2 separate regions of the Homo sapiens genome follow, and region 2 is linked to region 1. Evidence: fine-mapped expression QTL. A gene starts in region 1. The other region holds a variant in brackets. All regions are shown on one strand. Distances are between the middles of the regions.

Region 1 (5,374 bases):
TTAGTTTTTTCACATTTCTTATAGCAGGTACTCAGATTTTTGTTGAACAAATGAGTAAATGAATAATTTTGTATTTTGGCAAAAATAACCTTACGAGGTTGTAGAGAGGATTAATGCTAATATAGGGTTTACTATAGCCTGGTACATAGTAGGTGTTTTGCAAATAAGGATAATAGCTATTATTATTATTGATTCAATGCTGCTTAGATTTAGGTACAGGTGCCCATGTGGCACTTTTATCTAAGTTAGATCGAGATTCTTCATTAAACTTGAAAGCAAATATTAAATGCTCTTAAATATTTGGAACATGCTTATGTCCAGAGGGGCTTTCCCATTACAAGGGAAGATTATAGGAATCTCAGGAGCTTCTTGGTTCTCTACTCTTGGGAGTGTGGCTTGTGAAGTTTGGTGGCGAAAATAGTGGCAACAATGGTGTTGTCTGGAAGAAGCCTTGCCATTCAGCCAGATGTGCCAAAAATCATGTGGCAACTCAGTGGGATCAATTCCTGCAGTCCAAGAGGTGCCCATATTTGCTGTCATTGCTCTTCCTTGGGTTTAAAACACACTACCCAATGACATCCAAATCTACGTATTTAGTACATTTGTCCTCTGGGTAAGAATAAATTATGAACCTACTGCCTATTCTTGAAAGAGAAAAGACAAAAAAGGGTACTATGCTTTTGATCTGAAAACTAATGTCTTTAATCTACCTAAATCATTGCTAGTTAAATACCATTTTCTGGTGAATCACATTTATCTGCTGTAGAGTATAAGTTCTCCAGATTAAGATCTTGTCTTTTCATAGGGTGTATAAAATAATGCACACAGCTTTAGCACTCCTGGTATAACAGATGGCTATCATTTGTAACAAAAGAATAACATTGGAAGCCTTCTGACATGTCCTAGAAGCTTGGTGTGCAAGAAGAATCCCATTACATACATATTGTAATCCCATTACAACATGTTGTAAAGGTATATTCCCCATAGGGAAAGCCCAATAACTAATTCCTTCAAATCTAGAAAACAGACGACTGAGAGTTAATTTTTTTTTTTTTTTGAGATGGAGCTTCACTCTTGTTGCCCAGGCTGGAGTGCAATGGCACAATCTTGGCACACTGCAACCTCTGTCCCCCAGATTCAAGCCATTCTCCTGTCTCAGCCTCCCGAGTAGCTGGAATTACAGGTGCCTGTCACCATGCCCGGCTTTTATTTATTTATTTATTTATTTATTTATTTATTTATTTATTTATTTTGTTATTTTTAGTAGAGACAGGGTTTCACCATGTTGGCCAGGCTGACCTCTAACTCCTGACCTCAGGTGATCCACCTGCCTCAGCCTCCCAAAGTGCTGACATTACAGGCATGAGCCACCGTGCCTGGCCAAGAGTTAATTCTAATTGCATAAAAATTCTTTGCTTTACAAAATAACATTTTTTAAAAAATTTTTTATTTTTTGCTAAAGAGTCTCTTGAAATAGCCAGATCTCTTTTTGGAGAATCCAAAATTGGATTTGCTTTACAAAATGTTTATTAGACTCAACTTTTCAGGAGCAAAGCGAGTGTGAAAAAATGGGACATTGCCTGTCAGGCATCAATGGTAAAGTGTCACTTAGTCACAGCGTAAAAAATAAATAAATAAATAAAAAGGCTCACCATTCCATCCCCTAAGCCCACCAAAGTCAAATTGTCCAAATGTGGCAGGTGGCTATTGCAGGCATCTGGTGCTCTCATTCCAGTCAGGAAGGTGAGGCTAGCATTGGGGTGGGGGCGGGGGGCAGACATCAGTAACTGTATGACCCTAAACACAGAGTCCGAAGAAGGGACCCCCAGATTACAGACAGCCTTTCCTCCACATATCAGACCCTCTTTCTTTACAAATACAGCAAATACAAGCAGATAACTGGGCATCAGTCATTTCTGATGCATTGCAGGAAAGAGCAACAACATACACTGTATCATTCAATTTATCAAGTAAACTACAGGCACTGTGCTAGACTCAAAGATAGAAAAGAAGACAGGGAGCAAAGAAGAAAACGCACGTTTAGTAAGACACCTGAGTGCCTTCAAAGACCATGCAATGTCTTTAGGTACTGTTCCCAGCTAGCTTCTCCAACAGAAAAATGAGCATACTCCATTTCAAAGCTGGATTCTGTAACCAAATGCACTATTCATATTTTTCCAAGGCTCCTAAACCAATAGTTAACTAGTCTCTTCCAAGATTTAGGGAGGCTGTTGAATTCTTTTCTGGAAGTTCTATGTATTTTGCTAAAAGTTGTGCTCCAAACACTTTACCAAGAATTAGGGTCAATGAAGGGGTACTTTGTGCAAGCTACAAATACTTGGAATTTTCATAAGGCAGTTCATTTCTGCCTTCCTGTGAATAATTTCATATTTCTTCCTTGTAAGACTAGGGTTTGTGTGCTCATGAGTGTCTAGATTGTCAGAATAGAAGGAGTGTTTAATACATTGAGTGGGTCTGGGGCCTGGAGATGAAGATGTGAGGGATGCAAGAAGGAGGATCTTGAATCAGATGGAGCGAAAGATAACTTGGAAACTCCAGTGGAGAAAAATGGCTAATTTGGATTGTTTAATTTGTTCAGGTTTGTGTTTTGGGTTCTGTCACACTTATGTTGAGAAACGTCCCTGCCATCTCTCTAATGCACGCAGTTTATGTTCAGAAACGGGCAGCACAGAGAGGAATTAGCGGTGGGGGAAATTTTCATCACCACCGGTGATGTGTGCACCGATGGTAGATGGCTATCCAGAGTGTAAAAATGTGATTCTGGGACCAAAGGGTCAGCTCTAGAACGAAATCAGACAGCTGGAGAACTGAAGATTCAACTCTTCCTAGGCAAGAGAGTGAGAAAGGTGGGTTGCTTGCAGGGTGGAGGTAGGGGTTGCTCCTCCTAGTTCCTGGGCTGGAGAAGGGCAGGGAACTGGGAAGTGTGTGTCAGAGGCTCGCTATGCTAGGACAAGGTGTTGGGGTACTAGGGTGGGTGGGGGCCTGAGGGGTGGCTTGGAGCCCTGGCGGTGGCTGCCTGACGTCACCGGCCTCTCTGGCAATAGGCTGCGAGCTCAGCTCCCTGAAGCGGCGGCGAAGGCGGCGGCGGCGGCGGCGGCGGCGGCAGCAGCGCGGCTCGGTCTCTGGTCCATTCACTCCACGCTTTCTGCAGCCGCCACTGCAGCCGCGCGGCGGGGGCTCCCTCCTTGCAGCCAGCCGGCGGTCCAGGTAAGAGACAAGGTGTGAGTAAAGGCTTCTGATGGCCGGGTGGCCTGACGGCCAGGTGCGAGTGGGGAGGACAGCTCACGCGGCCTGAGCAGCCACCCCTGGCCATAGCTCCAGCCCCCGCCCCTGCCCCCGGCCCCTGCCCTGGCTTGCTTGCGCGCTACCTCGCTACTCCGCAGTGCAACAGTTTGCAGCTGCCTCTTGGGAGCAGCAAGGAGGCTCTCCTGTGCGCTGCGGGTCTACCGGCTCCAGTATGCCGGAAAAGCCTCGGGGCCTTTGGGCTGGGTCTGGGAAGGACAGAAAGAAGGTCCCGTTCCCCAAACTTTGCAGGCGGGAACCCTCCCCTTTCCATTCCAGCTCCTCTAGAAAGAAGCAGGCTACTGCCAAGTTGGGGGCACAGGGAAATGGGGAGGAGGGGGCCGTTTGTGGGAATGTGTCAGCTGAGAAAGATGCTTCAGCTGCTTTTTTTTTTTTTTTTTTTTTTTTTTGGAGAGGGGAGAATACCAGGGAAGAAGGCTGGAGAAGAGATGGAGCGCGTTCCTGCGCGTCAGCCGCGGTCGCGGACAGAGGCAGAGTGGGATGTGGTGCCAGGGGTATCCCCCTGGGAATGGGACCCAAGGGATCTGACGCTGTCCAGGGAGGGCGAGTCTGGACGGGGAGGGAAAGGAAGGGAGGACTGCGTACCCGGAGCCCGCGCGGCGGCCCGGAGTGGGTGCTGGGAAGGGTAGGATCCAGGCGAAGACATCAACCGAGAGGGCGCAGAAAAGAGGAGAGCCGGCGCTCTGGGAAGTAGGGACTTCAACCAAAGCGGCTGCGTGTCTGTTGCAATTATAAAGTTGTGAAGGGCGGAAGGGAGGCTGCCTTATCTGCTGAGTAATCTGCACCTCCGCGGTGCCGGCGCAGACCCCATCCTGTCGAGTGGCATGAGCAGGCTGCTGGTGGCTCTGGTGCACGGCCACGGGCCGGCAGGCTGGGGTCCGCTGACCGAAAATACAGGCAGCGCCCAGCTCAGGCAGTGTGCCCAGAGGGCCGCTTTGCGGTGGTGGTTGATCTTTCCCGACAGCACTCCCCTGGGCAGCGGCCGAGATTCTAACTAAGCTTTGTGTCTTTGCAGCCTGGTGCCTCTGCAAAGGAAAGGGGAGCGTGGAGACGTGTTCGAGGTGGTATCGGCGAGGATCTCTCGGGCGCCGCTCACTCCTTGGTCGCCTTGCTTGCCAGCAGTTGCTCCCTTAGTCCTTGGCTCGCTCGCACACCCCCTCCCGCTACAGGGAGCAGTTTTGGGTGGCGTGGGCTCCGTCCTCTTCTTGGCTGGTAGGAACGGTGTGCCCAAGAGGGGAAGCCTAGTGGGCCTGGCCCCTCCCAGCCCCGCGCCAATGAGTGCCAGGGCGCCGAAGGAGCTGAGGCTGGCGTTGCCGCCGTGTCTCCTCAACCGGACCTTTGCTTCCCCCAACGCCAGCGGCAGCGGCAACACGGGTGCCCGCGGCCCAGGCGCAGTAGGCAGCGGCACCTGCATCACGCAGGTGGGACAGCAGCTCTTCCAGTCCTTCTCCTCCACGCTGGTGCTGATTGTCCTGGTTACCCTCATCTTCTGCCTCATCGTGCTGTCCCTCTCCACTTTCCACATCCACAAGCGTAGGATGAAGAAGCGGAAGATGCAGAGGGCTCAGGAGGAATATGAGCGGGATCACTGCAGCGGCAGCCGCGGTGGCGGGGGGCTGCCCCGACCTGGCAGGCAGGCCCCAACCCACGCAAAGGAAACCCGGCTGGAGAGGCAGCCCCGGGACTCTCCCTTCTGCGCCCCTTCCAACGCCTCGTCGTTGTCCTCTTCGTCCCCTGGCCTCCCGTGCCAGGGTCCCTGTGCTCCTCCGCCTCCACCGCCAGCCTCCAGTCCCCAAGGAGCACACGCAGCTTCCTCCTGTTTGGACACAGCTGGCGAGGGCCTTTTGCAAACGGTGGTACTGTCCTGATCGTCTAGCCCCTCTCGTTCCCCGTCCTCGTTTCCAGCATCTTTGCCACCCTTGCTTTTTTCCTTCTTCCTTCCTTTTCCATTTTCCTCTGGCCCCTCTTTCCTCTTCCTGGTTTCCTTACCTGCCCTCCCCTTACTCTTGTTTCTCCTCCGCCGAGGCACTGTGCGGTATTTGTAAATATT
Region 2 (5,374 bases), 46 kb before region 1:
ACATGATGTTCAGTGACAAAAGCAAGTACGCAGAATATGGATCAATTTTAGCCAAAAAAAAAGAAAAGATATGAGAATGTTAAAAAATGTATTCATCATGATAGATTCCATTGCTCTAACAAATAATCCCAAAATATTAGTGGCTTAACATAATAAAAGTGTGCTTCTTGCTCATGTCATAGTCCAGTGTGGGTCAGCAGGAGTTCTTTGTTTCTCTCCATTCAGCTGGCAGATGGAGAAGACAAGGATCAGGTGTGGATGGATGGTTTGTTTCTTCATATGCGTCAGGTTTTGTAGAGGCACACATTACTTTCACTCATACTCCTTTGGTCACACCTGACTGCAGGAGAGGCTGGAAAATAAAATCCAGGTATGTGCACAGGAGGGAGGAGGGAGTGCAGATATTGGTAAATATTATAAATCTCTTCCCCAAAGAGTCATTATCAGTAATAACCTGCCTGTGGTGGGGTTTGAGAGTTAGGGGAAATAAAATAATCAGAATAGACACCAAAGTCAGGCTGGGATATTGAGTAAGGAAATAATGGATTTAACTTTGGGGATAGTCGGGTTTGCTGGGAAGACCTTACTGGTGAGTTGCAGTAGGCAGTGGGGATTGCAAATAAATGATGGAAGAGAAGCAGGAGCTGGGGTCAAGCATTGAGTCATTTGCCTAAGTTGAAGCACATGCAAACTGAAGAGGCTACCAAGGGCTGAGGATAGAATATCCATTGCCTTCTATTAAAGAAAACGGGAGGAGGAAACCAAGGAAGCAAGCACAAACTACTTAGAGAAGTAGGAAGAAAATCCAGTTACTATTAGGGCTGTGGATGCTGAGTTTGATATACTCATTCAGGTTCTGAGCCACAGTGATGTGTTTTTATGAAATAATTCTAGAAGGCAAGATAGCTGAAGAATTTATTGCAGTAGGTAAGACCCTACAAAGAATTAGAGTAGGTTTTTGAGATAGAATGTGCCTCTGGCAGCTCATTTTCTCTTGAGTCAGCACTTCTCTCTCCAAGTCTCTTTCCCTTGCTTTGACTTTTTGCTCCACTGAATGACTGACTGTCTTTCTCTGTGCAGCTAACATTCATACCTTCCAAGAGAAGAGTTTATTGATTTGGGTAATTGTAATACAATGCAGAGTGCTCTTGTGGGTAAAGGTCTCTTACCAGGCCTCCTTAAATGCTGTTGGCAGGACTTCCAGTACAAACATGGTAGGTTAGCTCAGATTCCATTCCTTTCTTCTTCAGGGAATAAAACCAAAGAGAATTAAATAAAATATTTAATATGTAATATACACAAACTTTATTTTCAGTGAAACCAGGAGACACGTAAGTCTGGAAGCTCCAAATATTGCATAATGGCAGCCAAAAGCATCTACGAGGCAGAGCTGTGAGGGAAGCTGTGTCGGGTGTGGTGGGGAGTTGGGCAAGAACTGCCAAGGTACTCAGGGCACCAAATGGCAACAGACTTCAGGAAGAACTTGTACAATGCTTCCCCAAAGAAACCAAACCTAAAAGTACAGATGTTAAAATTTAAGCTGATGCTGCTGTGAAAAGAATTTATCTCCAACAGGGCTAGGGCCAGATAGTAGTCACCTGCACCGGGGCAGGTGAAGAGCAAAAGTGCAGAAAGGATCACAGAGGAGTGATTAGGATTCAAATGTACAGATTATAGGGAAATAGTTTTGAAAGAATTTAGGCAGTAATTGCTTCATGAATCCTTCTTAAGAAACGTACTACAAACAACCAAGAGATGGCCAGAAAAATTTTGGCAAAAGACTTATGGTGAGCACTGGATAGATACACCATTAGAACTAAATGAAAAAAAAAAAAGGGAAAGAGAAAAAGCAATTTTGGAATGAAGAGGTGGAAAGTATATTAAGCACGTTGATTGCTTCCTTCTGGCTCCAATTAGATCAGCTATATGTGTGTTTGTTATAATTATTGTTTGAGAAAAGCCAAAAGATTTAATGTGGAAAACAAACTTGAACATTACCAAGCAAGGTGACCAGCGTCTTTCACTAACTGATATTCTAGGGATTGGTGTTTATTTTGCAGGCAAAGCTGCCACATCACATTAATTAGACTTGTGGAAACTTGTGTTTGTCCTTTTAGAGATGACTGAGGGTGGATGGGAGCTAGCATGTGACCTGCAATCCTGGGAAGATCCTTCCAAAGCCTATTTTCATGGGGACTGCGTGGGTGTGGATTCTGCCTGGGACCCCAATGTTGGGTCTTCACAATCCTGGCTGCAGACTCTTCTTCCTTTGATTTCTGTCAGGTTCATTTTGGTTCACTGAGTACATTTCTCTGTGAGACTGATAAAGATGTCTGTCTCTCTCTTTCCCAGTCCTGCATCTCCTCAATTGTTCTTTTGATTTTGTATGTCCCAGAGCCCTTGCTGAGCACAGCTTTAGGAAGATTTGAGGGTGTAAATGGCAGGGGTGGCAGGGGAGGCCAAATCCTCTATCACCCTGGGGAAACTTCGGGCTTTTATTTTTATTTTTTTATTATTATTATACTTTAAGTTTTAGGGTACATGTGCACAACATGCAGGTTTGTTACATATGTATACATGTGCCATGTTGGTGTGCTGCAATACCATTTGACCCAGCCATCCCATTACTGGGTATATACCCAAAGGATTATAAATCATGCTGCTATAAAGACACATGCACACGTATGTTTATTGTGGCACTATTCACAATAGCAAAGACTTGGAACTTCAGGCTTTTGTATTGTCTACAACTGATTTGTTATGAGCTTATTTTAATTAAGCCTCATAGTGTATGCTGAGTAGGTCTTTTAGAAGTAAATATAGAAAACAAAAGGGAAAAGAAAAAAGGTAAGTTAATTTTCCAATAGTACAAAAACAAACCTGTCAGCTTAGTCAAATCAGTCAGATTTTATTTCCATGAAATGAATTCATCACTTTGTTAGCTTGGTTGAGTTGGCTGTTCAGTAACTTTGTCCCATGCATGGGAATGGAAGCATTGGTTAGCCCGTTTGCACTGCCATGCA[G/GTGA]TGATGGGAGGGAAGAGGTCCTTCTCTCCTTGCTCAGGTTGGTTGGAGTAGGTGGGTCAGAGTCATGAGTGAGGGAAATGGTCCTATCAACATGATTTACAGAATGGAAAAAGTTTACCTTGCTCACAAATGGCCCTTTCTTGTTTCATGAGATTTCATGAGACCCTAACACTACTTGTTCCTCCATTCTTGGAAATTGACATGAAAACACAAATGCCCTGAGGGAGGAATAAGATATGAAAACAATGTGACCTAGTCACACCCCAGTCAAGTGCATCTGTAAATAGCCCTCCAGGAGCCTACCAGGGGCCAAGTAAATGGGGCAAAAGGAGGAAGATTTTAATGGGCAAAAGAGAGGCAGGAAAGTGCAGAGGGTGTGAGAGTCTACCTGAATAAGGTGCTGATGTGGTGGTCACCAGAGCCTTGGGACCTGGGCAAGAGAAGAGTCACTAGAAGGGAGCTTAGGGCCAGAGATTACGCTGATTTATTTTATAATTCTGCATAGGACTGAACCTTCTTCTGCTAGAAATATAAGTTTCACATATATTGCACTGACCTCCTTTCCTAACCAGATCCTGAAAGAAGCCTTCTATTTGGGCTAAGAGGTGAAAATAAGGAGGACAAAGGGGCAAAGAAGGGCCAGTTATTTAAGGTAGTCAGAGAGAGAACATATGAAACACTTCAGCTAAAAATTGGCCAGAATGAAGCAGCAGTTAACTCATTCTGTAGGAAATTAGACCAGAAGGTGGACCCATCCTTCCAACTCATGTCAACTGCAGGACCATGCCAGCTCCAGAGCTCCACATGGGAACTCTCTTAACTTCCCCATCTGCCCAAGCCAGCTTCCATCCTTTCTCTTTTACAGCTGTTGATGTTAAAAGCACTCTGTAAGGAACATCCTGCATGCTAATCTCTGTCTCAGAGTCTGCTTCCCCAGGAACCCGACCTGCAACAATTTATAAGGCACAGTTCCTGTGCCGGGCACTGATACTCACAGGGCATGGTGATATTTTATTTCCAGGGGCTGTATTTCTGGGGCTCTGTGTTCACTCTCAGCCCTGTCTCATGTCAACACCCTCAACCTGATGTTCCAAAATGTTGGCTCAGCAGATAGGTACTCTAAACAAAATAAGGTACACAATAATCCTTCCAAGCAAAGGTTTAAATCCCAGTGAGTGTAAAAATAATTAGAGATACAAATCTATGGATGTGGAGCAGTTCTTTCCCACCCTGACCCATCACTTGTCTTGGCCAAGGGCACAGGCCTTTATCCTGAGCACGAAGCAACATCGCACACCACAACACCCACTCCTGGTTCCTGGCCATCTCTGAGAGAAAACTCACTGTTCTCCTTTTTGTTCAGAAAGGATCAGAAAGGTGACACTCCACAGAGGAAAAGCTGGGGCTTTTAAGTCCACCTTCTGGTCTAATTTCCTACAGAGTGACTTTTAACTGCTGCTTCTTTCTGTCCAATTTTAGCTGAAATGTTTCATGTGTTCTCTCTCTGACTACCCTAAATAGCTGGCCCTTCTTTGACCTTTTGTCCTCCTTATTTTCACCTCTTAGCCCAAATAGAAGACTCCTTTCAAGATATGGTTAGGAAAGGAGATTAGTTCAATGTTTGTGAAATTTCCATTTCCAGCAGCAGCAGGCCCAGTCCTATGCAGAATTATAAAACAAATCAGTGTAATTCCTGGCACCGTGCTTCCTTCTAGTGACTCTTTTCTTGCACGGGTCCCAAGGCTCCAGTGACCACCACATCAGCCTCTTATTCAGGCAGCCCCTGCACCTTTTATATCCCCACTATGATTGGGTTCAGGATGGTCCTGTAAAGAGGCACAACCTTGGGTAAGGCAGATATCTCTGGCCAAGGCAGTCCCCAAAGAGAGAAACAGCTGAGAGCTGTCTTTCAGGAGCACTCCCAACAGCTGGAGAAATAAATCCATAAAATCTGACACAATATGTGGTATAATACATAGAGTCAGTGCTAACTTGCATGTTTTGACCAGATGTTAAACTGGTTTCTTACAAAATGAAAAAACACCCCCTCACCCCAACCCCTATCTCAGTTAATCTTGCAACATCACTCTGCACTTAACCTAGGCAGGAAAGGGTGGGTGGAGAAGATTTATGAAAAACTACTGCCTGGATGGTGTTCAAATAAGTGGAAATATATCTGGGTACATAGATTCAATTATATTCTTACAAAGGAATAGTTTCGGTCAAGTGGTTCTCAACTAGGGGTGATTTTGCTCTCTAAAGGACATTTAGCAATGTCTGAAGACATATTTGGTTATCATGATTGGGAGCAGGGGGCAGTGCTACTGGCATGTAGTGGGTAGAGGCCACGG

Evidence for each region. PIP is the estimated chance that this variant, and not a neighbour inherited with it, causes the effect.
Region 2: its variant is fine-mapped to the expression of C11orf87 in lung (TOPMed, PIP 0.98).

What each region holds. Positions count from the first base shown.
Region 1 is chr11:109,419,036-109,424,409 of GRCh38, forward strand. C11orf87 (chromosome 11 open reading frame 87) reads left to right here and starts at 3,155. Exons shown (of 2, transcript NM_207645.4): 1 at 3,155-3,228; 2 at 4,340-5,374. The coding sequence starts at 4,599. The coding sequence ends at 5,192.
Region 2 is chr11:109,373,234-109,378,607 of GRCh38, forward strand. No RefSeq gene overlaps it. Among named protein-coding and RNA genes, the nearest start is that of C11orf87, 46 kb to the right of the region's middle. The variant G/GTGA (reference allele first, on the strand shown) is at 3,024.